4 linked regions of the Homo sapiens genome follow. The protein of the gene in region 1 binds, or shares a complex with, the protein of each later gene. Each region holds a gene or a part of one and is shown in the gene's direction. Other genes may lie near its edges. The genes, in order: NUP153, CETN3, RANBP2 and NUP93.

The links.
Region 2: NUP153 (region 1) and CETN3 share a complex: the UniProt entries of both Homo sapiens proteins name them as parts of the nuclear pore complex.
Region 3: NUP153 (region 1) and RANBP2 share a complex: the UniProt entries of both Homo sapiens proteins name them as parts of the nuclear pore complex.
Region 4: NUP153 (region 1) and NUP93 share a complex: the UniProt entries of both Homo sapiens proteins name them as parts of the nuclear pore complex.

Annotation. Positions count from the first base shown.
Region 1 is NC_000006.12:17,703,921-17,711,620, reverse strand, and holds the start of NUP153 (nuclear pore complex protein Nup153), read left to right. Parts: upstream 1-4,695; 5' UTR 4,696-5,233; coding exon 5,234-5,344; exon of another isoform or gene 5,345-5,491; intron 5,492-7,700. UniProt on the Homo sapiens protein: Component of the nuclear pore complex (NPC), a complex required for the trafficking across the nuclear envelope. Functions as a scaffolding element in the nuclear phase of the NPC essential for normal nucleocytoplasmic transport of proteins and mRNAs.
Region 2 is NC_000005.10:90,392,748-90,399,781, reverse strand, and holds part of CETN3 (centrin-3), read left to right. Parts: intron 1-232; coding exon 233-424; intron 425-3,217; coding exon of another isoform or gene 3,218-3,289; intron 3,290-5,674; coding exon 5,675-5,718; 3' UTR 5,719-7,034. UniProt on the Homo sapiens protein: Plays a fundamental role in microtubule-organizing center structure and function. As a component of the TREX-2 complex, involved in the export of mRNAs to the cytoplasm through the nuclear pores.
Region 3 is NC_000002.12:108,757,482-108,764,515, forward strand, and holds part of RANBP2 (E3 SUMO-protein ligase RanBP2), read left to right. Parts: intron 1-931; coding exon 932-1,067; intron 1,068-2,463; coding exon of another isoform or gene 2,464-2,576; exon of another isoform or gene 2,577-2,632; intron 2,633-4,619; coding exon 4,620-4,714; intron 4,715-5,755; coding exon 5,756-7,034. UniProt on the Homo sapiens protein: E3 SUMO-protein ligase which facilitates SUMO1 and SUMO2 conjugation by UBE2I. Involved in transport factor (Ran-GTP, karyopherin)-mediated protein import via the F-G repeat-containing domain which acts as a docking site for substrates.
Region 4 is NC_000016.10:56,733,129-56,740,128, forward strand, and holds part of NUP93 (nuclear pore complex protein Nup93), read left to right. Parts: intron 1-7,000. UniProt on the Homo sapiens protein: Plays a role in the nuclear pore complex (NPC) assembly and/or maintenance. May anchor nucleoporins, but not NUP153 and TPR, to the NPC. During renal development, regulates podocyte migration and proliferation through SMAD4 signaling.

The DNA of each region.
Region 1 (7,700 bases):
CACATAAATATCTCAATAAATATTTGTGTTTTAATGAATTAATCTCAGTTAATTCATTAACTGTCTTAAATGTTAGGATGGGATTGCCTTCCTAAATTTGGTTATTATTTCATCCAATAAAACTGAGTTTCCATTCAAGATTGAATTTAAAATATGCCTTAAACTATAATGTAATGTACATAAACACATATATACCAAAGTCTAGTATACATTGATACATGTAGTCAGGAAGAGGAAATATATGGCATGTTGGAATCAAGTGATATATGTAGTTAATCAAAATTTGCTCATATTAGTTAATTTAGTCTTAAATATTACTTTATTCCCAATAGAGAGAGAACACAGTAAGTTAATGAGAATACAATGATTTACATCCTTAAATATCTTTCCGTTGTGTGGCCCTTCTTTCCCTAAAATACAAGCAAACAGGCAATAAATAAATAAATAAATAATAAATAAACCCAATAGCTTCATTTTCTTTATTTTTTTCTTTAGAGATGGGGTCTCACTCTGTTACCTAGGCTGGACTGCAGTGGTGAGATCATAGCTCGCTGCAGCCTTAGACTCCTGGGCTCAAGTGATCCTCCTGCCTCAGCCTCCCTAGTAGCTGGGACTACAGGTGCACACCACTAAGCTCAACTAATTTTTTCATTTCTTTGTAGAGAAGGGGTCTCGTTATGTTGCCCAGGCTGGTTTCAATCTCCTGGCCTCAAGTGATCCTCCTGCCTTGGCTTCCCAAAGTGCTGAGATTATGGGTGTGAGCCACATGCCTGACCAGGAATACACTTTAAAATAATAAAGTATGGTAGCAACAGGAAATGGCAAGGAGTGCCTGTTAAAAAAAAAAAAAAGGTATAGTAAATACATAAACCAGAAACAGCCACTTATCATTATGAAGTATTCTGTACTGTACATAATTGTACATACTCCACTTTTACACAAATGGCAACACAGTAGGTTTGTTTATACCAGCATCACCACAAACACGTGAGTAATGTGTTGCAATAAGACCTTAGGACAAAGACAGTATCACCAGGCAATACGAATTTTTCAGCTCTTTATGGGACCACCATTGTATATTGGGCCCATTGTTGATTGAAACATTGTTATGCTGTGCATGAGTGTGATAATTTGTTTTAATAGACATCACAGCAGATACCTCATTTTGTTTTGGTAAGGTGGAATAACTACATAAAATTTCGTAACTTCTTGTACTTGTCATCTTTAAACATTCTTTTGGCCAGAATTGTATTAGTACCTTCTGAAGAATGTATGATGGCTCTTTTTCAATCTAGGTTGGGTTTAGACTAAATTGTATTTCACTTTTAATTAGTGGATACTCCTTATCTATTAGAGATGGGTCAGCAGCCTATTTGCTAATTTATAATTGGCAGCTGGTTACATATATATATATACATATATATATATATTTGTTGTTTTAATTTTTTAATTTTTTTGATATGGAGTCTCACTCTGTGGCCCAGGCTGGAGTGCAGTGGCATGATCTCAGTTCACTGCAACCTCCACCTCCATGGTTCAAGCGATTCTCCTGCCTCAGCTTCCCGAGTGGCTGGGACTACAGGTGAGCACCACCACGCCCAGCTAATTTTTTTTTTTTTTTTTTTAAGTGGAGACAGGTTTCACCATGTTGGCCAGGCTGGTCTCGAACTCCTGACCTCCAGTGATCCACCCGCCTTGGCCTCCCAGAGTGCTGGGATTACAGGTGTGAGCCACTGTGCTCGGCCACTTTCTACTATATTATATGGGGAACAAAATAAAGAAGTTTCTTGGCAGAGGAGGACTATTGTAGCAACAAGCTTTTCATGAATTGCAGTGTCTCCCAATATGCCATTTATTTGGCTGAAAAAACTAGGTCCAGGTTGAATGCAGATTTCCTCCTGTCTCTTTATTCCTTCTCTGCTCTCAAGCCTGGCACGGCTTCCAATGACTCAATCACATGAATGTGAGATTAATGCATTATAGTTCCCTCAAATACTATTTTACTTCCAAGAAATAAAATAATTGTGGAAATGGGTAAAAAGTTGAGAGCATGGGTAAAAGGAATGTGGATTTTCCCATATCTCCTCAAGTTCTACCAATCTTCTATTTCTGAAGCATTGTCTACATTTGGCCCAATTCTTTCGCGTCTCTCTTCCTTTCAAAGGTTGGCTGTGAAGGGTGTCCAGCACATCAAAGAATAGCCTCCAAGAAAGGGGTGAGCTTTGATTCCAGTCAGTCCTCTGTTCTGTGGTGGAAACTCTGGGTCTCATAGAGTGAAGAGGGCAGATGGGATGTGGCTATGGTTTAATCTCCTCTACGTATAACCCAATTAAAGATTCAGGTACAGATCTTCCCTATGAGTTAGCTTATCGTGAATTACTTTACTTGGCTGTCAAATATCTAGCTATGGATTTGTGGAAGAATAGGATTTCTGCATAGGAGGAAGATAGCACCTGAGGGAAACAACTGTCTTTAAGAAAGATGAAGTGCTTCAGGAGGAAGAGGGGGCATACCTGGAGAATTTAGTGGGAAGTTAGTGGTGGGAGGAGGCATGAAGCTAGGATGAGACAGCGGAAAATAGATTAATTTTGTTTATCATATTTGGCAACTTGTCTTGATCTTGATGGTTATGGTCAGAGGTGCCACTGAAAGCCATTGATGTGTACACCTATGCTTGGTATAGCATAGTTTCTTTAGGCGCTGAAAGGTACAAGTTCAAAGGTACTAGAAGACTGGCTTTACAATTTCACTTGTATGATTTAAACAATGAACCTGAATTGTGCAGTTTGATTGTGGAGATAGTATAAATGTCTTGGAACTAATTATTTATATCTGATTGATGGTTGATATTGGATGCTTTCTATCTAAGCAGTTACTATGAACTAGATATACATTAATCCTTTCACCAGACCACTACCCTGTGAGGTCAATATTCGCTCTATTTGCTGATGAAAAAAACGAAGCTTAGAAACAGGATCAGTGGGCTGGGCGCGGTGGCTCACGCCTGTAATCCCAGCACTTTGGGAGGCCGTGGGCAGATCACCTGAGATTGAGAGTTCGAGACCAGCCTGACCAACATGGAGAAACCCCATCTCTAGTAAAAATACAAAATTAGCCGGCCGTCGTGGCACATGCCTGTAATCCCAGCTACTCGGGAGGCTGAGGCAGGAGAATCGCTTGAACCCAGGAGGTGGAGGTTGCTGAGATTGCGCCATTGCACTCCAGCCTGGGCAAAACAAGAGGAAAAAACTTCGTCTCAAAAAAAAAAAAAAAAGAAAGAAACAGGATCAGTAACTTCCCCAAGGCTACACAGCTAGTAAGTGGGAGATTTATAGTAAATAGGCTGGGCGTGGCGGCTCACACGGGTAATCCCAGCACTTTGGGAGGCCAAGGCGGGTGGATCACTTGAGGTCAGGAGTTCAAGGCCAGCCTGGCCAACATGGCGAAACCCCATCTCTACTAAAAATACACAAATCAGCTGGGCGTGGTGGTGCACGCCTGTAGTCCCAGCTACTTAGGAAGCCGAGGCAGGAGAATAGCTTGAACCTGGGAGGCAAAGGGTGCAGTGAGCCAAGATCGCGCCACTGCACTCCAGCCTGGGCGACAGGGCAAGACTCTGTCTCTCAGAAAAAAAGAAAGAAAGAAAGAAAGAAAAAAAAAGATTTATAGTAAGTCTAAGATTTTTCACAACATATTTTTCCTCCCTAATCATTTGGCTATTTGTCTTTAGCTCTTACAGAAAAGTTGGGTTATAGTCCTGGCTTTGATTACCCATCTCAGTGTCATTGATTGTGCCACCTAAATTTCTCTGGACATCTTGTCTGGTTGGTTGAATGAGAGGGTTGGACTATGTGATCACCAGGACCTTTCTAATCGTCAACTCCTAGAATATACATTTTGTGGATTCAGTCTTTGAGTCTAGCTCACTTACTCAGTTTCCTAAATATTTGGAGCAAATATAGTATACTTTTATTGTTAAGGATATATCACTTACCCCTAATGTTAGCTGACTGCATGGGTTATAATTGTAATCATTCATCGCATTTTTCGTCTATTAGCAAATATACATGCTCTCCATAGATGATCACGTCTGCTCCTCACAACAGCTTTATAAGGTGGATTTTAAAGCTCCCATTTTATGGAGGAGGAAGCTAAGGCTCAGACGGTTTTGATTCATCCAAGGTCAAATAGGTTGGGTGGCAGAACCAGAATTCCAGCCCCGTGTGTCTGCAACAAAACCTTTATATGTTTAAAGAAACATTAATGAAGCCGTATATATTTTCTAATTCTAAGGATCATGGACTTTATTTTTCAACCACAGATTTTTTTTTCCTCCTTCTTAAATCATTAGCTCTTGTCTTTGATTTTACTGTCTGCTTACTTCCTGCCTACTTAACCAACCGACAGGGAGAAGGAGAATGGGAAGAGGTTACTGTTTTTATGTTAAGTGTCTTTTCAAAGTCTAATTTACAGCCAAGAACAGCAAAAGTACCCCTTGGCTTTGTGCCTCTGCGGCGCCCCGGAGATCTCCTTCCCCGTCCCTCTTCCTTTCCGAGAAGCCGCGTTCCGTTGTTGAACTACGTTTCCCAGCGTGCCGCGCGGCCGAGAGCGTGGACTCGACCAGCCCTTCCTCTTTGCCTATCAGCTCGTCGCAGCATGATGATGCAAATGCGTCGGGCGCCGATGAGTGACGACATTCTGGCTCGCGACCGCGGCAGCCGCCTTAGCAGGGGTAATAGGCGCAACGGCGGCGGAGGCTGCAGGGACGACGACGACGACGGCGGCGGGGCGGGCGCTGTGCGCACAGGGGAGGGGTAGGCGGGCGTCGCCAGCGGCTTCAACTGCGGCAGCTACGGCTAGGGCGACGGAAGAACTCCCACCAGTCGGCGGTCGAGTTAGGCCTCAGCACCGCGGGGAACTGTTCGTGCTGTCCTCTGCGGGAGATCTCCATAGAGACCGTGACACACACAGAGGCGGGGGTCCGCAGAGGCGGCCGGACCGGAGCCTCCTCGGCCTCTGCGGCCGCCACCCCCTTCCCCGCTGCCAGCACTCACCCTCTCTCCGCTCCTGCTCGCAACCTCGCGGTTCCTGGGGTGCTTGTGCCCACTGTGTGGACAGCGCGGGCGGACTTTTGGGCCGGGGCCGGGCGGCGGGGGAGGCTCTCTAAGGCCTCCGCCTCTGCCTCTCCCGCCCCCTTACCCGCCCCGGAGCGGGAAGCGGCGGAGGCTCCGCCATGGCCTCGGGAGCCGGAGGAGTCGGAGGGGGCGGTGGCGGCAAGATCCGGACGCGGCGTTGCCACCAGGGGCCAATTAAGCCTTACCAGCAGGGGCGACAACAGCATCAGGTATGGGACCCCGACGCCGCGGTGGCCTGGCGGGTGGGGAAACTCGGCTGGAGGGGACGGGCGGTTCGAGGCCCCGGCGCCCCACGTGGAGCAGACAGGAGGGCCTGAGGAAAGGCCCGAGTGAGGCTCCGGGGGAGCTCAGGCCGTTGGGGGTGGCGACGGGAAGTGGGCTGAGACAGGCCCAGCCTTGCGGCGCACACGTGTGGTTTGGGCCGCCTTTCCCCCAACTCTCTGGGTCAGGGGCTTTCCCAGGCAGGCTCTGGGCGGGAAAAGAAATTGTAGGCCCATGATGCGCGCGTTTCTTTATTTTTTGGCGGGGATTTGGAATTTGAGGGTATTACTCATGTTCTCTCGAGGGAGAAAGGAAAAGATGTGGTTGATGGCCCTTATACTTGCTGTTTTCTGGTGTCCCTTCTTTAGTGTGTTTGAGGAGGGGGGGCTGCCCCTTGGAATCTTAACTCTGGGGCAGACGGGGAGTTGTGGGGGGCGCTGTTACATGGAAAGTGGAATAACTTAGTCTCAGCCTATGAGTTAATTCTCGGTTTCCCCTGCCTGTGGCCCTCCTCGTCTTGAGAGCATTGGCTTAGATTTTATTAACCAGGTTATAGTTAACCGTGGCACTGGGGCATTTTGAAAGTCCCTCTCCACCCTTACGTCTTTTCTCTGCTGCGCGACTCCCCTCCCCCCCCCCAACACCGCCACCCCCGCCTTTATTTTGGAGGCTGGAATTGGCCATTCTCCACAGTTGACCGGGACTCCAGCTCTGATCTCATACACAAAATATTTTAATATTATGAGGCGTATTCTAGAAGTATAGTTACTTTTGACACTCCAGGAATGTTGGTGGTCTTATAGTTTAGCCACTGTATGAACTCCTGGATGTTTAAAATTATAAAAAAGGATTATCCTAATTGTAAATGAGATAGTTGATTCTGAGAAAATTCCATTTTTAAAATATTGATTGTTAGAAGTATTGAATAGGAAAATGTTAACTTATTTTAATAAAGCCACTTATCAGTGATACTGAGGTGGGAAGTGTGTGTCTTAAATTTGTTGAAAAACAAAAGTGTAGCAAAAGGATCTGATAACTTGTTGCCTACTGTTAAAGGTAGACTTCCTAGATTACTTTATTCTGGATGCTAATAAAGATTACACACTTTCACATGGTTGATGTTGTTAAATTGTGTCATTATCAACAGATTTTTAAAAGTAAAGATTTGGGTCGGGCGCGTTGGCTCACGCCTGTAATCCCAGCACTTTGGGAGGCCGAGGCGGGTGGATCACCGAGGTCAGGAGATCCAGACCATCCAGAGACGGTGAAACCCCGTCCCTACTAACAAATACAAAAAATTAGCCGGGCGTGGTGGCAGGCGCCTGTAGTCCCAGCTACTTGGGAGGCTGAGGCAGGAGAATGGCTTGAACCCGGGAGGCGGAGCTTGCCGTGAGCAGAGATCTTGCCCCTGCACTCCAGCCTGGGCGACAGAGCGAGACTCTTGTCTCGAAGAAAAAAAAAAAAAGTAAAGATTTGAGGAATTTTTTTTTTTTTGTCTTCTAGTTTTCTTAAATGTTTTTTATTTTGAGGGAAATGTTTGAGTAGTAAAAATTGTGGTTCAGGTATTTTCAGTCGTTCTCTACTGATGGTTAGGTTTGGCACTGTTACTACTCCCACCAGTTTTCCCCCAGATATGTACATAAAGTGCTTAGTTTTCAAATTTGTGAAGAAAAGGGGTATTTGCGAGCAGATTTAAGATTAGAATTCAGGTCACAAGCCTGGCCATTTAACCTAATCCGTCTGTAGAATGGAAGTTACACATGCATGCTTTCTTTTCTCCTATGAATGCCTTTGAGTGCTTAGATTTTCTTGTATGACATGTAGAAAAATGACTTGTTTTAAATATAGGTCATTGGATGGTCTGAATAGAGGTTAGAAGGGAATTAATATTTTCCAGATGTCTGAAGTTATCACAGCTTTTTTTTTTTTTTTTGAGACGGAGTCTCGCTCTGTCACCCAGGCTGGAGTGCAGTGGCGCGATCTTGGCTCACTGCAAGCTCCGCCTCCCGGGTTAATGCCATTCTCCTGCCTCAGCCTCCAGAGTAGCTGGAACTACAGGCGCCCGCCACCACGCCCAGCTAATTTTTTGTATTTTTAGTAGAGACGGGGTTTCACCATGTTAGCCAGGACGATCTCGATCTCCTGACCTCGTGATCTCCCCGCTTCGGCCTCCCGAAGTGCTGGGATTACAGGCGTGAGCCACCGCGCCCGGCCCCTGATCACAGCTTAAATGTACTTAGATAAAATAAAAATCTAATTTTGGGGAGATGATGTCTTAACAGCATAACACCTATGATCCAAGGT
Region 2 (7,034 bases), on another chromosome or scaffold:
TTATAATAAGACAAGTTGCTCATGATAAAAAAGGTTAACATTTAAAATATGGATTTGATTTTTCTAATTTCAGGTTTATCTCGGGGTTTGGGGATCTCATTTGACATTTTATTGTCAGACTAAAAGTTGACAGTCACAGCTTTAATTCTCATCTAATATTTAGTTGATTTCACAAATGAATGCCTTTGTGATTATGCAGGTTTATTAAAATATATATGTTTTTAAACTGTAGTGACAGACTGGATATTGGAAAGAGATCCCCATGAAGAAATACTCAAGGCATTTAAACTATTTGATGATGATGATTCAGGTAAAATAAGCTTGAGGAATTTGCGACGTGTTGCTAGAGAATTGGGTGAAAACATGAGTGATGAAGAACTTCGAGCTATGATAGAAGAATTTGACAAAGATGGTGATGGAGAAAGTAAGTTTTAAGTGAAACGTATTTTCCAGGTTTTCCTGATGCTACACATGTAATACATTTTTCTAAAACCAAATGACTTGCAAGACTTTTTTGTAAACTTAACTGCTTCTTGTAATGGACCTTCTGTCTAAATAATTCACATATTCAATTTAGAATGAAGCAGATCTCTAAAACCAATTATACTTCAAGAAGGTCCTTCACTTTTCTCTGAAGGTGAAACCACCAAAATTTCAGCCTTTCAATATAATTTCAGTCTTTAATGGCTTCTCCCTCAACCTACATGCTAAGTTCTAAGTTCTATTGATTTTCCCCTTCAAATGTTTTGAATCTGTTTTTATCTTTGTCCATTGTGGCTGTCCTAGTTCAGGCCCTAATTTCTAGTTAGGAATGTTATAATGGCCTCATTTATTCTTGCCTTGGCTGCCTACTGGGTGCAGTGTCCTGCGTGTTGACTGGTGCTACACAATGAAAAAGGCAGATGTGGTTCTTGCTTTCACTTTGCAGTCTCTTGTAGTGTCCTAATTGCCCTTTCGGCATATAAAAGTCTCTAATCTCTTCTTCAGTCTCTTGGTATCATTCTTTTCCTAAAATATACATTTGATAATGCCATTTCTGTGTTTAGACACTTGAAACGATTCTTCAGTGCCTACAGAGTAAAGTTCAAAGCCTTCTATGATCTATCCCACCTTGAGTAACTGATTTTACTTTCCAGTGTATTCTTTCACTTTTCTTCTTTAACCCTCACCTCCTGTATGTACACATTTTGTCAACATATGCTATCCTGAAAACACATTTTTATGCTATTCGTTTCATCCTGCTGTTTCTTAATCTTAGAATGCTCTAATTGTTAATTTCTGCCTGCTAAAATGTGATTCATTCTCTCAGGTAAATATTAAACACCATCTTTTTCCCAAAAGCTTCCCATAACGCTCTATGAATCATGAGACTTCCATTGAAGGCCTATAGCATTTAGAGAAACAAATTGTTTTGATACTTTCATACACTTAATATGGAATCTTTTGGCTGGAAACTAAGTTTTGTTGAGATAAAAACCACTTTATTTGTATGTTAAACTGCTAAAGATTAGACCTTGCTGTCTTTTTTGTGGACTTTAGTGTTCTTCTCTCTTTGTGACTTTTTCATGCTTTTCAGTATCTAAGAGCAATGAAATTTTAAAAATATTGGGTATATAGAATAATAAACATGGTGAATGTGAAGTTAAAGGTAAATAAGATGTACTACAAGATAGACATAAAGCTGTGGTAATGATACAGAAAGAGTCACTTCCCCCTGCCCCCTCAACAGCATATATAAAATAAAACACAGCACATCTTTTGGAAAAAATGAAAGGAACGTTTTGAAAAGCCAGAATGGATAATCTTTTAAATAATGATGATGTTTTTTAACATTTATTTAGCAGCTACTATATTGGATATTAGCATTAATTATGTCACTTAATTTCCATAATAACTTGTAAAGTAGATATAGTATTATACCTATACATGTGTATAATAGATGCATATATAGAGATGAGGAAGCTAAAGCTTTGAGAGATTATTAATCTGCCCAGGTTATCACAAAGCTAATACTGTACATGGTAGAGCCAGAACTCAAAATCAAATCTCCAAAATGGCAAAGAATGTGCTTTTAAACGTAATATTGTATTGCCTTTCGGGCTATGAAGTAAAATATTAACTAGACTTCTATGTTTATGGAGTTTTAAAAATTACATGCTATTATAGGAAGCAGTGTATTAGCAACATACTCAGTTGGAACTTCCAATTCTAAGATTTGCTTTTCCCCTTCAAAGCCAGATGGTCTCTAAGGTACTTAATCTACTTAGTTCTGTAAAATTCTTATTGTTAGCAACTTGTAATAAGATTTGCTCTATGAAATGGTTGATGTATGAAAAATTTTGTTAAAGAAGGCAGTATAAAAGGAAACAAAGTGTCATATTTTCTTGATTCAATAAATGTTTTACCAAAGCTTATTTTAAGCTAGGCATTGTGGTAGATTTATTAGATATAGGAACTTGATATAAGATATTGTTAATAGAGAAGGTTATAAAATCAAATGCACAGAGATATAGAAGATTGTCTTTTAATTGTCTACAAGACAATTAAAGTAAAGTAGCTAGTTTAATTTCCTGAGCCACTTTCTAATTTTTACTTTCTTGGGTTTAAGTAGTGTGTTTTTAGGTATGAATCATGGAATTCAGTTGTCCCTTGATAAGCACAGGGGATTGGTTCCAAGTCGCTTAAGGATGCCAGAATCTATGGTGCTCAAGTCCCTTGTATAAAATGGCATAGTATTTTCATATAACTTTCACATATCCTCTTGTATACGTTAAATCATCTCTAGATTACTTATAATACCTAATACAATGTAAATGCTATGTAAATTGTTATACTTTATTTTATTTGTATTATTTTTTATTGTGTTATTTTCCCAAATATTTTTCATCTGCAGTTGGTTGAATCTGCAGATGTGAGGAACCTGTGGTTACAGAAGGCTGACCGTATTTTAAATACTTTTGAAATGCTATTATAGTTTAAAGTTTTTGTATATAAACAATATAAAAATTAAGTGTTTTGTGGTTTTCAAACTTATATATGAAACTTAAAATTTGCAGTTTGAGTATTGAAATTTTACAGATCAAGAAAAAGTTCTAGATCTTTAAGTAACAAGTACTTTTTGGATTTTGAATATTTTAATCATGGATGTATTACACTGTTAAAATGATTTGTAATCAAATCATTCTAAGGCTGTTTTATGTTTTTTCTCTTAATACAGTTCTTAAGAACATACTCTTGCTTCCTATTTGGTCTAGATGCCTCAGTCTAAATCGGGAGTTCTTCAGTGAAGGTGCACACTGGCTAAACTGATTAATAATTTTATATATTTGAACTGTATTTATTGGAAAGAGAGAGGGATCATAGCTTTCCTAAGATATTCAGACATGGCTATTTAACTGCAAAGGTTAAAGATCACTACATCAATTTGTAAGATTCTTGAAAGTAGTTTGGAGTATTACAGATTTTGTATTACGTTCTTACCATGTTTGTCATAGTGTTTTGTAGATGTTAAATACTGATTGCATGGCTTCATAGTTCCCTGTCAGCTTCTGGAGGGTGCATTTTTCCTAACTCATAGCTTATTTCTGTGAGGCATACACTATTCTTTCTTTGACTGTATTTCTGATGGTATTCTCCCACCCCAGCTCTCTTTCTACTTCCTTTCCAAATTCTGTATTTTTATTTTAGAGCCCAAGTAATGATTTACCTTTACCTAAATTTTTCTTATTAGTAATAATTTTTACCATTGTGAAGGATTTTTTTTCAACACTGATTTGGTCTTTGTTTTAATAATAAATAGTATTTTGTGTTATAAAACATTTGTTCTGTTTCAAGTATAAAAACTGACTAACATAGTTATCAAAACCGGTTTTCTATGTGGTTTCTAGAACCAGTGCAGTATATATTCTTTTCATTCCCTATGACCATGTTTTATCTCCTCAACATTTTTTAATTGGTTAATTTTTTCTAACTGTTCATTATGAATATTCTCAAACAGAAAAATTGTCAGACTAGTACAATGAACACCATTGTACCTTCTGCCTAGATTTAGTAATTAGTATTTTACCGCATTTGCTTTACCTGTCGTGTGTATATTTTTTTCTCAATCATTTGAAAATAAATTTCATATATCAAGAACTCAGTCTTTAGGCCAGGCACCATGGCCCATGCCTGTAATCCCAGCACTTTGGGAGGCTGAGGCAGGTGGATTGCTTGAGCCCAGGAGTTCAAGACCAGCCTTGGCAACATGGTGAAACCTAATCTCTACCAAAAATACAACGATTAGCCAGTCTCATAACCCGGTCTCTAAATTAATTAATTAATTAATTAAATTTTAATAATAAAACAAAAACTTGATCCTTTAATATTTTAGCATATCCATCTACTAAGAACAAGGATATATCTTTCATAAAGCTATGATACCAATGTTACACTTAAGAAAGTTAACAATAATTTTATAATATCATATAATATCTTTCTCATTTCGGTTTTAATGTATTCCAGAATAGGAAGCCTGGTGTCTGTTTTGATATATTACGCAACACTTATTGTGGTGTTGGCATTCACTAGCCACTTAAAAATGTTTGATTCAATGGAGTATTTTCATATAATACCTTCTATGGTAAATAAGAGTTAAACAATCTAAAACATCATCTCATAGTTCAGTGTTTTCAGATGAAGGAAATGAGATGCAGAGCTGTTCTGTGCAGAGCTGTGACTAGAGACCAGGTCTTAAGTCTCAGTGTAGTTTTCTTTTGGCATTATCAAAATTATCATTCATAATTTATGCATTGTTTAGGTATGTATTAAGTCTTAGGGCTAAATGCTAAATACTTACCAGAAGTATCTTCTGAACATTTTTCTTAATTGATACGTGCGCATATGTCGGGTTTTCAAAATTATATTCTATAAGATTATCTGATTTCTTATTTCTAGGTTGCTGTCTTAAACATTATGTTTTATAAATTGGAGATTCTTACTATATTTATAATTTTGGCAAACTAAAAATTAGTCCTTATCCATGATTATTTTCTGCCTTTACATCTATATAGTTACTGGATTACTTTGGTGATTAAGATTACATCTGTAATCTTTTCAAATTGCCATTTTTATTGATACCTTTGAGGTATGGTGACCTGGTTTTAATTATTCTTTAACATAGGCTTTTAAGTATATAAAAGTTCAAAAAATAATAATTTAACTTCTTTTTATAATTTTATTATATTTTCATTCTTTAGAAATCTAATTTACATGCATGATATGTTCAAGCTTACTTGTAAAGGAAGGATTTGCTAAATGAACTAGTAGAATAAAGATTATAAAGAGGGTTGTTTAAAGAACCTTGAAATGTCAAGCATTTAAAATGTTTTAGCAAGTATGTACAAATATGACTGTGATTGACTTTTTTGGTAACATTATCTTTTCCCCAGTTAATATTATAGAATACTAATTTGTAATGTTTATCACATTATATGTATTTTTGCATCCAAGAAGTTACATTTAATAAACATGTTCCACTTCCTAACAAAGAAGTAAAAGCAAAAAGCCATGTCTTAATGTAATAATTTTGCATAATGTAAAATTTTTTAAATACTTAGTGTAAAATGGTAGTCGTGGATTCTGAAAAAATAAAATGTTTATATTTCTGACTATTTCATTTTCTTTCTTACCACAGTAAACCAAGAGGAGTTCATTGCTATTATGACTGGTGACATTTAAAGAATTACAAGGATAAACACTAAGAATGTTGCAGTTACCATCTTATATTCTATTTTTGTGCCTGGAGCCATGTGAAAAAAACCAACTTAGTTCTTTTATCCTAAAGGACCAAAAATAAGCATCTTATATATCTGTATTTTACTACTGTTAAGTTTCTTTGTATGAACTGTGTTGTTAGTACTCAGATAGTTTAGCTTTGTATTTATAATAGAGCTTTTATATAAAGTTTTAAAAATTGAATGTGTGATATGTGTTCTTTGAAGGTTTTTTAATTTAACATTTATAGTCACTTTTTAGTGCACACATTTTCCAGACTTTCGTTAATAAAATATTTATTTTATTAGAATTTTAAAGTTTGGTAAATTTGTTTTTATTCCTAGTATCTGTTAACCCTCAAGAGTGGATTTCTTAAATCTTCCCTTTATAATTTTACTAGTTTCTGAAACAAAAATTGAAATACAATTAGCAATAGAGTGGCACATTTTTCCATTACCTAACATTTCATCAATTTTGACATTCTATATTTTAATACAAGCTGACTCAATATAAGCCTAATTCCTTTTTTAAGAGTCCTGTCTTTGAGTTTAGAAGGAATAAGTATTGTGCAGATAGACCCATTTATCCTTGTGTATTATGTTTCTTAACTTGGTATCATTGTAAGTATGAAAGTTAATTTTCTTCTGAATATTTCCTTAAACAAATTGAATGAATACAATTTGAATTTTCTAACTTCTTGACTGAGAGATTTAAATTTTGGAATTTTGATTTGTTAAGGTAATTATCACTCAATTACATGTCACAGTGATGAAAATAGAAAACTGTAAGCCACAGAAATAATTTAAGTCTATGTTTTACCTATATGAAGGAACAGTCTGTGATTCACCAGGAAATAGTAGAGACACAGTTTCCAAGTACTGGTGGGCTCTTCTGCCTTGTAGAAGTGTATGTTAGGGGGAAACAAGTGGTTATGGAGATCGATCATAGAAAAAAATAGTACCTATATGGATCCTTCACTCATATCTAGTACTCGGTGTTATGGGCTCTCCCAGGAACGGAATTGAGTTGTCTATTTCAGCAATCTTTCTTTAGAATTCTTGTTTTAAATTTTTAAGTTTAAAGTGTAGTATCATTTGAGGCGCTTTAAATGTTGTGAGCCTTTTAAGAGTATTACATTAAGGGTTGTCCACTAGAAATTTAACACAAAATCAGTAGGGAATACTATAGCAGTAGTGACATTTCAAACAGTTATCTAGGAAGCAAGTGTATATTAAGTCATTCTTGTATTGCTACGAAGAAATACCCAAGACTGCATATTT
Region 3 (7,034 bases), on another chromosome or scaffold:
AATTAAGAGTTTAAGTGCATTGGACGTATTATTATATACATAATAAATTCTCTGCAGCTACTACTTTTTTCCCTTTCCTGGTGGAGCATTTGAACATCACCTTGAGAATTAGTTGTATTTTGTTTCAGCATGGGGTTAAGTGAAAAGCTAATTTGGGGAGGTAACGCGGAATGTCAGGTAGTCCAGATTGCAGTGCAGAAAGAACACACTGAAAGGATGGTCAGTGTAATGTTAGAGGACTGTGAAAGTTGAGGAAAGAAGTTTAGTTTGTAGATACTTGTTTTTTTGAGCAGGGAATTGTCTTGGCTGGAGGTGAACGTCAGAAAGGTTAATGTAGGCAAGTGTAGAATGGAAATGAAGGTGTGATCATTTAGGAGGTTATTTGTTTAGGTGAGAGTTAATAAATTAGGTTTTGTATTAATAAATGAAAATGGGAGCAGATAAATTTTTAACAAATTAAGAATCATATTTTAAAATCAGCACCAGGTACCTAGAACTCACTGGCAAATAGAAACTTTCAAAAGATATAATCAGGTCCGGGCGTGGTGGGTCACACCTATAATCCCAGCACTTTGGGAGGCTGAGGTGGTGGGTCACTTGAGGTCAGGAGTTCAAGACTAGCCTGGCAAACATGGTGAAACCCCATCTCTACTATTACACAAAAAATTAGCCAGGCGTGCTGGCTGACGCCTGTAATCCGAGCTACTCAGGGCGCTGAAGTGGGAGAATTGCTTGAGCCCAGGAGGTGGAGGTTGCGGTGAGCCAAGATTGTGCCATTGCACTCCAGCCTGGACGACAGATCGAGACACCATCTCAAAAAAAAAAAAAAAAATCAGTTATTTAAATTTAAAAGAGTAAGTTTCCCCAGCACTGTTTCTGTCATGATATAATTAAATGTTTAAAATTATTTGATTTTTTTTTCTTCCAATAGAAAGAAATGCAGGAGTTGAAACTAAATAGCAGTAACTCAGCATCCCCTCATCGTTGGCCCACAGAGAATTATGGACCAGACTCAGTGCCTGATGGATATCAGGGGTCACAGACATTTCATGGGGCTCCACTAACAGGTGAGCTGGCAAGTGGATAATCGCATATTTTAGTAAAACTACTTTACTTCCCTCTTTTAAGTAGATAACGTGTGAAATCACCTTGTTTATATATGTTTGTTAATATACATGTCAACGTCTGTTTATATGTGACTTCAAAAGCTGTATTTGGTGTTACGGAGATTTTTATAATCCCAAGCAGAAAAAACGAGCCGTATGTGATCACGTGTATATAAAGGCTTAAAGAACACTTAATCCACACCTCAGATGAGCTGAGATGAGATTATTCCTTAAATTGAAAAATGTTAATGAATAGAGTTATGCACTAAGAAATGCTTAATTAAGAACCTACACCTCTGGGGAATTATTTTGATGATAATGATGAGAGGCAGGACGTTATATAGGAAATCTTACTTAATTTGAAATATTATGGTTATATAAAGAAAGAAAAGGAGTTTGGACCTGAATCATACTGGGTTTTTAAGTTCTGCTCTATCACTTACTATAATAGCTGTGTAAGATAACCTGTCTGAAACGTGGAGATAATACTTGCCTTACATAATTACTATGAGCATTTGTGTATGTGCAGGTGGGCGTGGGTGTGTATCAGACATTTATTAGAGTATACAGTAAACAGTTAATGAACTAAGGTTACTAATAGTGTTTACTGTGGGTTGGCTATGTGCAAAAGTGCTTTGTGAATGTAATTTTATTTAATTACAGTAACTTAGAATGGCCGGTACCATTATTAATCCCTTTTTTATAAATAAGGAAATTAAAGAAAGGTTAGGTAACTTACTCATTATTATACAGCTAGTTATTGATAGAGCTGAGATTCACACTCCGGTGGTGTAACTCCAAAGCACTTGCCAGTATAATACATTGCTCCCAGGCAGCGAGAAATAACAAAATTGTTCCTTTTACGTACGACAGACTTCTGAAATGGTAGTAGTAGTAGTGCCCTTTTTTTTTCTCTTTTTAGCCCAGGAAAGATTTAGAATAAAATCTAGTTTAGATGAGCACATTTGTGTGATGGTTCATATAGTTAAGGCAACCCCACTAGCCTTTTGTGATAGTATCTTCTCAACACAAGCAAAATAACAGAAAATCTTTGTGAAATCAAGCTTATTAAATGTCATAAGTCATAGATAAGTATATGAAATGTCTAACGTTCAAACCTTGTTTTCTTAAAACCTTACACATCATATAGGTCCTTGTAAGAGGATAAACAAACCGGCTAGCCTTTCCTGGGGCTTTTTTAGTGATGTGTGCAGTCAGTTATTTGGTGCCTTGTGGGTCATGATTTCCATTTCTTCTGTGTACAGGCATAAAAGATCTTCTGTTCTTATACAAGCATGTAAATCCAACATTCTCATTGTCTCATTTTATTCTTGCAATGACCCTGTGAAATGTGTAGAAGCAGCACATCCTCATTTTACAATTGAGAAACATGGAGACTCCAAATGGATTATTTACAGGTTCACAAAACAGCTTTGTGGCACTGAAAGGGCGAGAGCCAAGATCTCCTGATTTCTGTTCCTGTGTTCATAGATTCTTTTTCCTTAATAAAAGTAAACATATATCAAGATGGTCCTTGTTTTTTAAAAATAAGATGATTAAAATTAAAGATTAATGAGCTCATAGGAGATACTCAGAAGTACTGAACAGGGTGAAGAAAACTAAAAGCTAACCACCTTATTAACATTTCCTATATTTGAGAGCATTTCCTTCTAGTTCTTTCTCTATACATATAGTATTTTTTATGAGATTGTTACCATGTTACTATGTTGTGTGTAGATGAGCTAGCCTGTTTTTTAAATGTTACTTTAGTTCTGAGCATTTTTAAACTTAAATGTTTTTTGAACATTAATGAGTTCATGGTATCCCATCACATGGAAGTACTGTAAATTCTGTTCCTTTATTTATGTTGTTTCTGGTTTATGCCATTACAAATTCTAGGACACTGTCCTAGTTTTATAGGGTATTCAGAATATTCAGTTTATGCTCTTACCACTAGTATCTGATAGTGCCATTTTCGCACTTTGCTAATGCTGACTTACTGGTTTATAAAATCCTTTGCCAATTTGTAGGAACAAAAGTGATATCAATTTTTAAGTTTTTTTAATACTAGTCATGGTCAACAATTCATGCAAATGGCAGTTGGTAGTTTTGCCATCTTCAACGTGGGTACCTCCCAGTTGTTTGGTTTCTTGGTAAAACTCACACAAAACAGATGGAGAAGAGTTTGTATATCAACATGAATGTTAATGTGATTTTTTTAAAGCCCGCGAACACATTTGTGTTCCTTGTGATCTCCTTTGCATGAATTTGTCAGGTAATTTTTTTGACCTGAACATTCTCATAATAGCTTCAGTTTGCCCAATGCAACCTCATCATTTTGCGGATTTTTCAAGGCTCACTTCAAAAACATGTTCCTTGAGGCCTATTAACATTTCTTTCCTAAATTGTCTATTCATATGGTGCTTTTAAAAGTTAGATTACTTTTAGTAGATTTATTAGAGCCGCACAGTTTAGAGTCAGTAGTCAATTAAAGTCCCTACTTAAACTTCAGACTAAGATTTTTTTTTTATTTAATATTTTATTTTTTCTTTTTGCTTTCATGCAGACAGACATCTTGCAAGACTTTAAGATTCTTGGGCCATTTCTGTCAGGTTGTTCTGTGTTCTGTGCCTGCTTCCTCCCCATAGTAATTTCAAAATAGCTATCCTCACCTCTGTAAGGTTTCCAAAATCAAACTTGGGCTTCTGGCTAGCCTTTTCTAGGTCTTGATTTTTCAGTGCTTTCCAGAGGCAATTGTTTGGAACCTCTTGGCACAGTTTCTGTTTCTTTTTCCATGTACAGGCATAAAAGGTCTTTTGGTTGTTTTCTGGTAAAACTATCATAAAACAGTTCAAGCAAATGACTATTGGTAGTTTTGCCATTAACATGGGTGCCTTCTAGTCATTTTGTTTCCTGGTAAAACACACAAAACAGAGGGAGCAGACAGTTTGTACATCAGCATGAGTGTTGATGTGCTTTTTATTTTAAGCCAGGGAACACATTTTATGTTATTTATGACATCCTGTCCATGAATTTGTCAGGTGATTTTTGAGCTGAACATTCTCAGTAATAGCTTTAGTTTACAAAATACAACCTAGTCTTTCTGCAGATTTTCTAGGCCCACTTCAAATGCATTGACCATCAGATGGCATCTTGGTTCCTTACGTCCTTTCTGTGACTGAATGTCCATAATTCCACATCATACTGATCTTTCTTAGAAAAGGCAACAGTTACTTTCTTCTTTATTCCTTTTTTAATGCTTGTGAGGTAGTTGTTCTTGTTGATCACAGCAATGCTATTCTCTTATTCTTCATGTCATATTTAGCAGTTTTTTTCTAGTTTGTCATTTGATAATCTTGATTGGTGTATTTTGATGTACAGAAATTTAAAATTTATGTAGTTAAATCTTTCTTTAATTTCTATTGCCTTTGTATTTATAGCTCTTGCCTAGATAGTCTTAACTGTAGTATAGACTTTAACAGTGTTTTCTTTATTTTCTTTTTGTTTTTTTAGTTGCAACTACTGGCCCTTCAGTATATTATAGTCAGTCACCAGCATATAATTCCCAGTATCTTCTCAGACCAGCAGCTAATGTTACTCCCACAAAGGTAACAAAGGAATAATTTATACATTTATAATTATTTCCTTTTTAAATTGTTTAGGGTTCCTTCAAATAAATTCAAGAGAGCAGTTCACTATTAAAACTTTTATGTCCCTTAAAATGTAGATATTTTAAATTTATCTCCAAATACAGAAATTATCCTTCTTAGTCACCTTATTTTTGTGTTAATAAGTGTGAATATTTAGAATATTTTAAAAATGGGAGTGGTGGTGGTGGATCCTTCATCGTTCTGTTTTAACAGAAATAGAACTGTAATGCCCTTGCTGACCCACTATGTGGTAAGTACTTTCAGGCCTGATACAGCTATATATATAACAATTGATTGAAGACTCAATATTACAGTGGTAGTTGAATGTGACAGCTTTGAGGACAGAGTGTTGGGGTGCATTTAGACCCTTGCTCTTCTGCTTATTTTGACCACAGGCAAGTTTCTTAACCTCTCAATGCATCAGTTGCCTCATATGTAAAATGAGGATAATAATAATACCTTAATTCATAGGGTTTTTGAGGATATTAAAATGAGATAATAATGTAAAGTGCTTAGAACAGTGCCCAGCTGGCACATTAATAAATGCTCAATAAATGTTACCATCATCATCATCATCATCATCATCATCATTAACATCATTTGATAAATTAGGAATGAAGAAGGTATTTATTTTATGACTTTAGCTGTAGATTTTAAGATGCTATACATAATTTTCATTATATGCCAAGTATATATGCAAGTATCTTTGTAGTAATGTGGTTTTCTCTTAACCTACTTATGCCTAGTGCTCCATTATTGGAACACTAAGCTTATGGGAGTTATTTATATCCTACTGCTCAAGGTCATTGCCAAGGTCTGATTTTTCACACAGAAAATTTGCAGCCTCTGGCATAAACGGGTTAATGATGTGTACTACATCCCCTAATGAGATCTTCTTCACTTCATATTCATGTTTGAAGTTTGTGAGAATTGGTTTGCATTTAGTTATCTGTAGTTTTGTAGACAATCTACAAAATGTTTTAACTTTCTGTCTTTTAGGGCCCAGTCTATGGCATGAATAGGCTTCCACCCCAACAGCATATTTATGCCTATCCGCAACAGATGCACACACCGCCAGTGCAAAGCTCATCTGCTTGTATGTTCTCTCAGGAGATGTATGGTCCTCCTGCATTGCGTTTTGAGTCTCCTGCAACGGGAATTCTATCGCCCAGGGGTGATGATTACTTTAATTACAATGTTCAACAGACAAGCACAAATCCACCTTTGCCAGAACCAGGATATTTCACAAAACCTCCGATTGCAGCTCATGCTTCAAGATCTGCAGAATCTAAGACTATAGAATTTGGGAAAACTAATTTTGTTCAGCCCATGCCGGGTGAAGGATTAAGGCCATCTTTGCCAACACAAGCACACACAACACAGCCAACTCCTTTTAAATTTAACTCAAATTTCAAATCAAATGATGGTGACTTCACGTTTTCCTCACCACAGGTTGTGACACAGCCCCCTCCTGCAGCTTACAGTAACAGTGAAAGCCTTTTAGGTCTCCTGACTTCAGATAAACCCTTGCAAGGAGATGGCTATAGTGGAGCCAAACCAATTCCTGGTGGTCAAACCATTGGGCCTCGAAATACATTCAATTTTGGAAGCAAAAATGTGTCTGGAATTTCATTTACAGAAAACATGGGGTCGAGTCAGCAAAAGAATTCTGGTTTTCGGCGAAGTGATGATATGTTTACTTTCCATGGTCCAGGGAAATCAGTATTTGGAACACCCACTTTAGAGACAGCAAACAAGAATCATGAGACAGATGGAGGAAGTGCCCATGGGGATGATGATGATGACGGTCCTCACTTTGAGCCTGTAGTACCTCTTCCTGATAAGATTGAAGTAAAAACTGGTGAGGAAGATGAAGAAGAATTCTTTTGCAACCGCGCGAAATTGTTTCGTTTCGATGTAGAATCCAAAGAATGGAAAGAACGTGGGATTGGCAATGTAAAAATACTGAGGCATAAAACATCTGGTAAAATTCGCCTTCTAATGAGACGAGAGCAAGTATTGAAAATCTGTGCAAATCATTACATCAGTCCAGATATGAAATTGACACCAAATGCTGGATCAGACAGATCTTTTGTATGGCATGCCCTTGATTATGCAGATGAGTTGCCAAAACCAGAACAACTTGCTATTAGGTTCAAAACTCCTGAGGAAGCAGCACTTTTTAAATGCAAGTTTGAAGAAGCCCAGAGCATTTTAAAAGCCCCAGGAACAAATGTAGCCATGGCGTCAAATCAGGCTGTCAGAATTGTAAAAGAAC
Region 4 (7,000 bases), on another chromosome or scaffold:
CCCCAAAGAATAGAGAATTGCTAGGGTATATAATTGGGGGAAGGCAGCGAGGGATGAGGATAGTAAGGGTGGCAGTGTCTGTTCTATGGAGAGCACCCTTTATAGCTCTGTCAAAACATGAGCATCTTATTCTGTAGGGGATGGAAGGTGTCCCTGATGGACTTAAGGCAGGAAAGCATTTCAGAAAGACCTCCCTGACCATGGGGAGGTTGATTGGAGGAACAAGAAGGCTTAGTCGGCGTGCAAGTCAGAGAAGGGGCGAGAGATGAGGGTATGACTTTGCAAAAGGTTTGAGAAGTAGAGCTTGAGATTGGCTGAGTGTTGAGGAGGTGAAAGGGGCGCTGGGGTGACTTGAAGGTGGTTCCTGGCTTACCTGACTGTGTGCTAATTGTTTTACGAAAAGAGACTGGGAACCCACGAGAAGGAAGCATTGGTGGTGGCAGTGGCTAAGGAGAGAGAAGTGATGAGTCTGATTTGGGACATGTGTAGTTTGAGGCACCCATGAGTCATCCAGGTGTAGGTATTAGGTGGACAGTTGGAAATACTGGCTTGGGAAAAGAGTTGGGCTGGACATAGAGATATGAGAATCCCCTTTGTTTTGATAGATTAGAGTCCTCCTAGCTCACTTATTTGCCTTGTATTAATGTCTGTTAATACCTCCATCTCTTCTCCCCTGAATAACATAACGTTTGAAATATTTTATAGCTTTATACTTTTTTATAGCTTCAACTGTGTCCTCAAACAGCTAGATCCCCCATACACAGTTGCTAAAAGCCAGAAGAAACTTTCTCAAACCTTGCCAAAAATTCCTACATTGATCTGTTAGGTACACCAAAGTTATAGTCTTCTCTTCCTTCCTTCATTCATTTAACACATATTTATTGAGCATTAGGTGCTGTTGTTCAGTGTACTGGGAATGGGGCTGTGGACAGACCAGACAAGGTTCCCAGACTCAAGGAGCCTGTTAGGAGACAGACAATAAATGAACAAACAGGTAGGCATGTGATGCCAGAAATTGATAACATACTACCAACGAGGTAAAACAGAAATGTGGTAGAGTGGACGGTGGGGCTGCTTTAGCTGGGGTGTGCTGAGAAGCTTCTTTAAAAAGGAAACCTTTGAGCAGAGATTTGAAGGAATTAAGGGGGTTAGCTAGGTAGGTATTTTGGAGGAGAATATTCCTGCAGATGCAGAGGAAACAGTGACTGAAAGCCCAAGTCAGCAGTGTATTTAGCATATTTGAAGAAGAGTGGAAGGCCATAGGACCAAAGTACATAATCCTGGGGAAGAGTGGTAACAGAAGGAGTTGGGTCGGGGACAGTCATGTAGGCCTCACAGCACAGGGTAAGGACTTTGGATCTCAGCCTGTGAGTGACGGGGGCTATTGAAGGTTTGAGCCCCTTTAGAGGATCCTTCCCAGTGTGGTGTGGAGAACAGACTGGGAAGTGGGAGGGGACAAAGTAAGAACAGGGAGACAGGAAGCTACTATATCACCCAGATGTGACACATGAGAGTGGCTTGCACCAGGATGATAGTGGTAGAAGAGACAAAAAGTGGGTCTGACTCATGTATATATGAATAAATGTAGTGTAGAAATGAATTGCTAATGTAGGGTATAAGAGGAGAAAAGAAGTCAAGGACAATGCCACGGTTTTAGACCTGAGCAACTTCTAGCATGAAGATACTATTTACTGAAATGAGGAAGATGGGGAAGGTCCAAGTCTTTGTTAGATGCTAGAATACGGCCTTCCTCCCCCTAACCCCTCCCACTCCATGCACCCTACTGTCTGTGCCCATCTCTATCTTTCTGACACGGCTGTTGCCCTGCTGAAAAACCTGTGTACCAGTTGGTCCCTTTGGACACCAGAGGTCTGCTGTGAGGATGACATTAGATTATACAAATAAAGCCCATAGTGGGGACTCATACACAGACAGAGCTCAGGAGATGATGTCGGGCAAATAAATGAATGGAGTAAAAGGAATTTAGATGAGGGAAACTTTCTGTAGGTAATGTGTATTGAGGAAGACCATTTGGTAGGTAGGACTTGAGTTGGTGGTAATAATGATAGCTAATGTTTATTGAGTGGTTACTTTGTGACAGGTGAGGGAGATGCAGTTATTTTTCCATTTCACAGATGAGGCCCAGAGAGAGTAATTAATTTGCCCAAAGTCATCGAGCTAAAGAGTGAAGGAGCTGGCTGGAGCTCAGGGCTGCAGTGGAAGGTTGGGTAGGTGTTTCTTTTTGGGAAAAATGGCACAGAGCAGGACATGTGCAAGGATAGTCAGGGACCAAGTAAATCAAGTGACTGGTACACAAGGTTTATTCTGGGAGGTAGAAAGTTAAAAGCAGTGACTCACCTGGATGGATCCCTGTGAATGGGAGCCAGTGAGGTTTTTTGAGCAGGGGCAACAGCCGTGTCAGAAAGAGAGATGGGGTCGGGCGCAGTGGCCCTCGCCTGTATTCCTAGCACTTTGGGAGGCCAAGGCGAGCGGATCACTTGAGGTCAGGAGTTCGAGACCAGCGTGGCAAACATGGTGAAACCCCAAAAATTAGCTGGGCATGGTGGTGCGTGCCTGTTATCCCAGTTACTCGGGAGGCTGAGGCAGGAGAATCGCTTGAACCTGGGAGGTGGAAGTTGCAGTGAGCTGAGATCTCATCATTGCACTCCAGCCTGGGGGACAAAAGTGAAACTCCGTCTCAAAAAAAAAAAAAAAGGAAGCTAGAGGTGGCCACAGAGAGTAGGGTGCATAGAGTTGGGGGCAGGGCTAGGAGGAGGAAGCCCATGTTCTAGCATGTAAGAAGGACTTAGACTTAAAGGAATGAAGGTCTGGCCTTAGGTGGTAGTGATGGGGATGAAAGCAATAGTTAGAGGATGTTGCAAAAATATAAATACCCCATGCTATTTAAATCTGTTTAGGAGCTGGGTGCAGTGGCTCACGCCTGTAAGGCCAGCACTTTGGGAGGCTGAGGCAGGCAGATCACCTGAGGTCAGGAGTTCAAGACCAGCCTAGCCAACATGGTGAAACACCATCTCTACTAAAAATACAAAAATTACCCTGGCGTGATGGCACGTGCCTGTAATCCCAGCTACCCAGGAGACTGAGTCAGCAGGAGAATTGCTTGAAACCGGGAGGTGGAGGTTGCAGTGAGCTGAGATCACGCTATTGCACTCCAGCCTGGGCAACAAAGCGAGATTCCATCTCAAAAATAAATAAATAAATAATCTGTTTCGGTAATGAGAGTTTGGAGAGTGAGGAATATCATGTTATCTGAGTCTGTAGTATTTCGTTTCCTGAGTTTTAGTTAGAGAGTAGCAATAGTTTGGATAATGAGGAATACCTGCCTGCTTGCTATGGAAAAATGTATCTACATGTGTTTGGTTTCTGAGTCTGAGAGTGGAGGGACACCTGTAAGTAAACAATCTGAGGTAACACAGAGATGCAAAGGAACAGGGTGAGTTAGAACCTGGGAGACAGAAGCCAGGGGCAGAGGCGGAGGAGGAGTTGGGGGTGGATAACTGCATTTGGAGACATGGTGGGTGTGACAGTTATGTGCTTGAGAGGAGATGCACCAGTGGTGCCTGGAAACTCACGGTTGGAGTTTGAGTGCACGGGGGCAGGTGTGGATTTGACAGTCATTGCCATTGAGTCTTCAAGGGCAGTGGTGAGACACACACTGTGAAGTAGGGAATTTAGAGCAATATTAAAATTAACAAGTTATTAAAAATTATGTAAGATCACATATACTCATGGAAAAGAATTTGCCCTGACAAGGGAATCAAATGAAAAGTAGAAAAGTCTCCCAACTCTCACCTTGGTAATGCTAGGTTGTTTCTTGCTAAGTCAGTGCTTTGTTTCTTGCTATTCCTTCTAAAAAACTGTGAGTCAACCTTAAGTATACAGCTTAGGGAATTTTTACACATTTATTCACTTATGTGACCACTGTCCATATTGAAATATAAAGCATTTCTGGTACTTTGGTCAGCTCAGATCACCATAATAAAATATCAAAATATCTGTTGTTCTGGCTTAAACAGAAATTTATTTCCTCACAGTTTTGGAGGCTGGAAGTCCGAGATCAGGATGCCAGCATAGTTGGGTTCTGGTGAGGGCCCTCTTCCTCGCTGCTCAGTGTGTAGTCAAGACCTTTCTTTGATGTGTATGTGTGGGGAGAGGTAGGTGGAGGAAAGCAAGCTTTCTGGTGTGTCTAAGGGCACTTATCCCATCCTGAAGACCCCACCCACGTCACCTCATCTGAGTCTAATTACTTCCCAAAGACCCCATCTCCAAATAGCATCACATTGTGGGGTAGGGCTTCAACACAGGAATTCTGAGAGAATACAGTTCAGTCCTTAGTACCCGAAAAGCTCTGCTGTGCTTTCTCCCAATCAGCACTCCCCCTACACTCCCAAGGATAACCAGTATTCTGATCTTTAGTCCCATAGATTCATTTTTTCTGTTTTTAAGATCCATATAAATGGAGTCATACGGTGCTTTTTTTTTTTTCTTTTTGTATCTGGCTTCTTCAGCTCATTGTGATGTCTGTGAAATTCATCCATGTTCTGTGTAGTCTGTAGTTTCTTTTCCATTGCTGTGTGTGGTATACCAAGGTATGAATATACTGCCATAAAAAGCCCAAGTGGGATAATTCTGTAAATGCAATGGTTTTAAAATTATAATGGTAGGGACCCAGACTTTTGTTAGAATCCGCACACCTTCTGCCTCCCAAGTTGTGACAACCAAAAATGTCTCTAGCTATTGCTGAATGTCCCCTGTGGGGCAAAGTTGAGTAGCATTGGTTTAGAGAGAAGAGCCAGAGCCAGAGCCAAAGCCACAGGCCCTTTGGGGCCGACTTGGTGATCTGCCCCTGTTTATGCTAGTTGTAAGACAGAACTAGTATCATTCCTAAGGTTCTCTGTAGAGATAATTTCCATCACCACTAAAATGGGGCTGTTTCCCAGGAAGCATCAAGTAAGTTTAAAGACCGAATTAAAACATCTCACATTTGTAAATTCTTTAAGGTGAGCAGGCCCTTAGAGATCACCTGAGCAACCCCCTCATCCAGAGACGATCCAGCCCCAGGGTCAGAGGGCTGGCGTGGGATGGAGCCAAGCTGTAGTCCACAGCACTTTCTTCCCAGCTGGGCCTTCTGCTGGACAGCCAAGAGTTTATCAGAAAGTTACTATGTGGATAATTTATTTTTCTTTGTGATGCCAGGTTATTACTTCTCTTTGCTCATTGAAGAGGAAATAATACAAGTGATATTTTATGTATCAGGAAAGCTGATACTACCCATTCCTTATTGCAAACATTGAGTCACTGAGGGCAGTACTGCTACTAAATCACCCAAGTCTTTTTCTTCTGTCTAGGTTAATTTATTTTAGGTCTTTGTTTTCTCCAGAACTCTACCTTTTGAATAATGATAAGGTCTCTTTTACTTAGTCTCACAGGGCTGTAAAGAACTTTCCAACAATTTTTTTTTCCCTCTCCTCTCTCTTCCAGAGGCATCTGAAACAATGATGTCTGTCAAGATTTAATTTTTTTGGGGTTGTTGTTGTAATTGACAGCTGACAGATAATAGTAAAAAGTGGAATGATATTGTCATCTAGCTAGTTTATGTATTCAAAAGAGAGGAGAACAGAATCAGTATTAAACTTTTGATACCTTGGGTGGAGGTTTTTCTCATCAATCTTGGATGAGAAAAGAAAGAATCATTCACAAGAATGTTGAACACCATTCTTGTGTTTTACTCCTGTCATAGTCTGATTAATAAGGTTTGAGGGCAGAGTTTCTGCTTAAAATTAAATGCTAAATTTCTTTTTTTTTTTTTTTTGCACCGCCCTTAATCCATTTAATCCTGAGTGGACAACACAGCACATGTTTCAGAGAGCACAGGGTTGGGGGTAAGGTCACAGATCAACAGGATCCCAAGGCAGAGGAATTTTTCTTAGTGCAGAACAAAATGAAAAGTCTCCCATGTCTACTTCTTTCTACACAGACACGGCAACCATCCGATTTCTCAATCTTTTCCCCACCTTTCCCGCCTTTCTATTCCACAAAGCCGCCATTGTCATCCTGGCCCGTTCTCAATGAGCTGTTGGGCACACCTCCCAGACGGGGTGGTGGCCGGGCAGAGGGGCTCCTCACTTCCCAGTAGGGGCGGCCGGGCAGAGGCGCCCCTCACCTCCCGGACGGGGCGGCTGGCCGGGCAGGGGGGCTGACCCCCCCCACCTCCCTCCCGGACGGGGCGGCTGGCCGGGCGGGGGGCTGACCCCCCAACCTCCCTCCCGGACGGGGCGGCTGGCCGGGCAGAGGGGCTCCTCACTTCCCAGTAGGGGCGGCCGGGCAGAGGCACCCCTCACCTCCCGGACGGGGCGGCTGGCCGGGCGGGGGGGCTGACCCCCCCCCACCTCCCTCCCGGACGGGGCGGCTGGCCGGGCGGGGGGCTGACCCCCCCACCTCCCTCCCGGATGGGGCGGCTGGCCGGGCGGGGGGCCGACATCCCCACCTCCCTCCCGGACGGGGCGGCTGGCCGGGCGGAGGGCTGACCCCCCCACCTCCCTCCCGGACGGGGCGGCTGGCCGGGCGGGGGGCCGACCCCCCCACCTCCCTCCCGGACGGGGCGGCTGGCCGGGCAGAGGGGCTCCTCACTTCCCAGTAGGGGCGGCCGGGCAGAGGCGCCCCTCACCTCCCAGACGGGGCGGCTGGCCGGGCGGAGGGCTCACCCCCCGACCTCCCTCCCGGACGGGGCGGCTGGCCAGGCGGGGGGCTGACCCCCCCACCTCCCTCCCGGACGGGGCGGCTGGCCGGGCGGGGGGCCGACCCCCCCCACCTCCCTCCCGGACGGGGCGGCTGGCCGGGCAGAGGGGCTCCTCACTTCCCAGTAGGGGCGGCGGGGCAGAGGCGCCCCTCACCTCCCAGACGGGGCGGCTGGCCGGGCGGAGGGCTCACCCCCCCACCTCCCTCCCGGACGGGGCGGCTGGCCAGGCGGGGGGCTGAC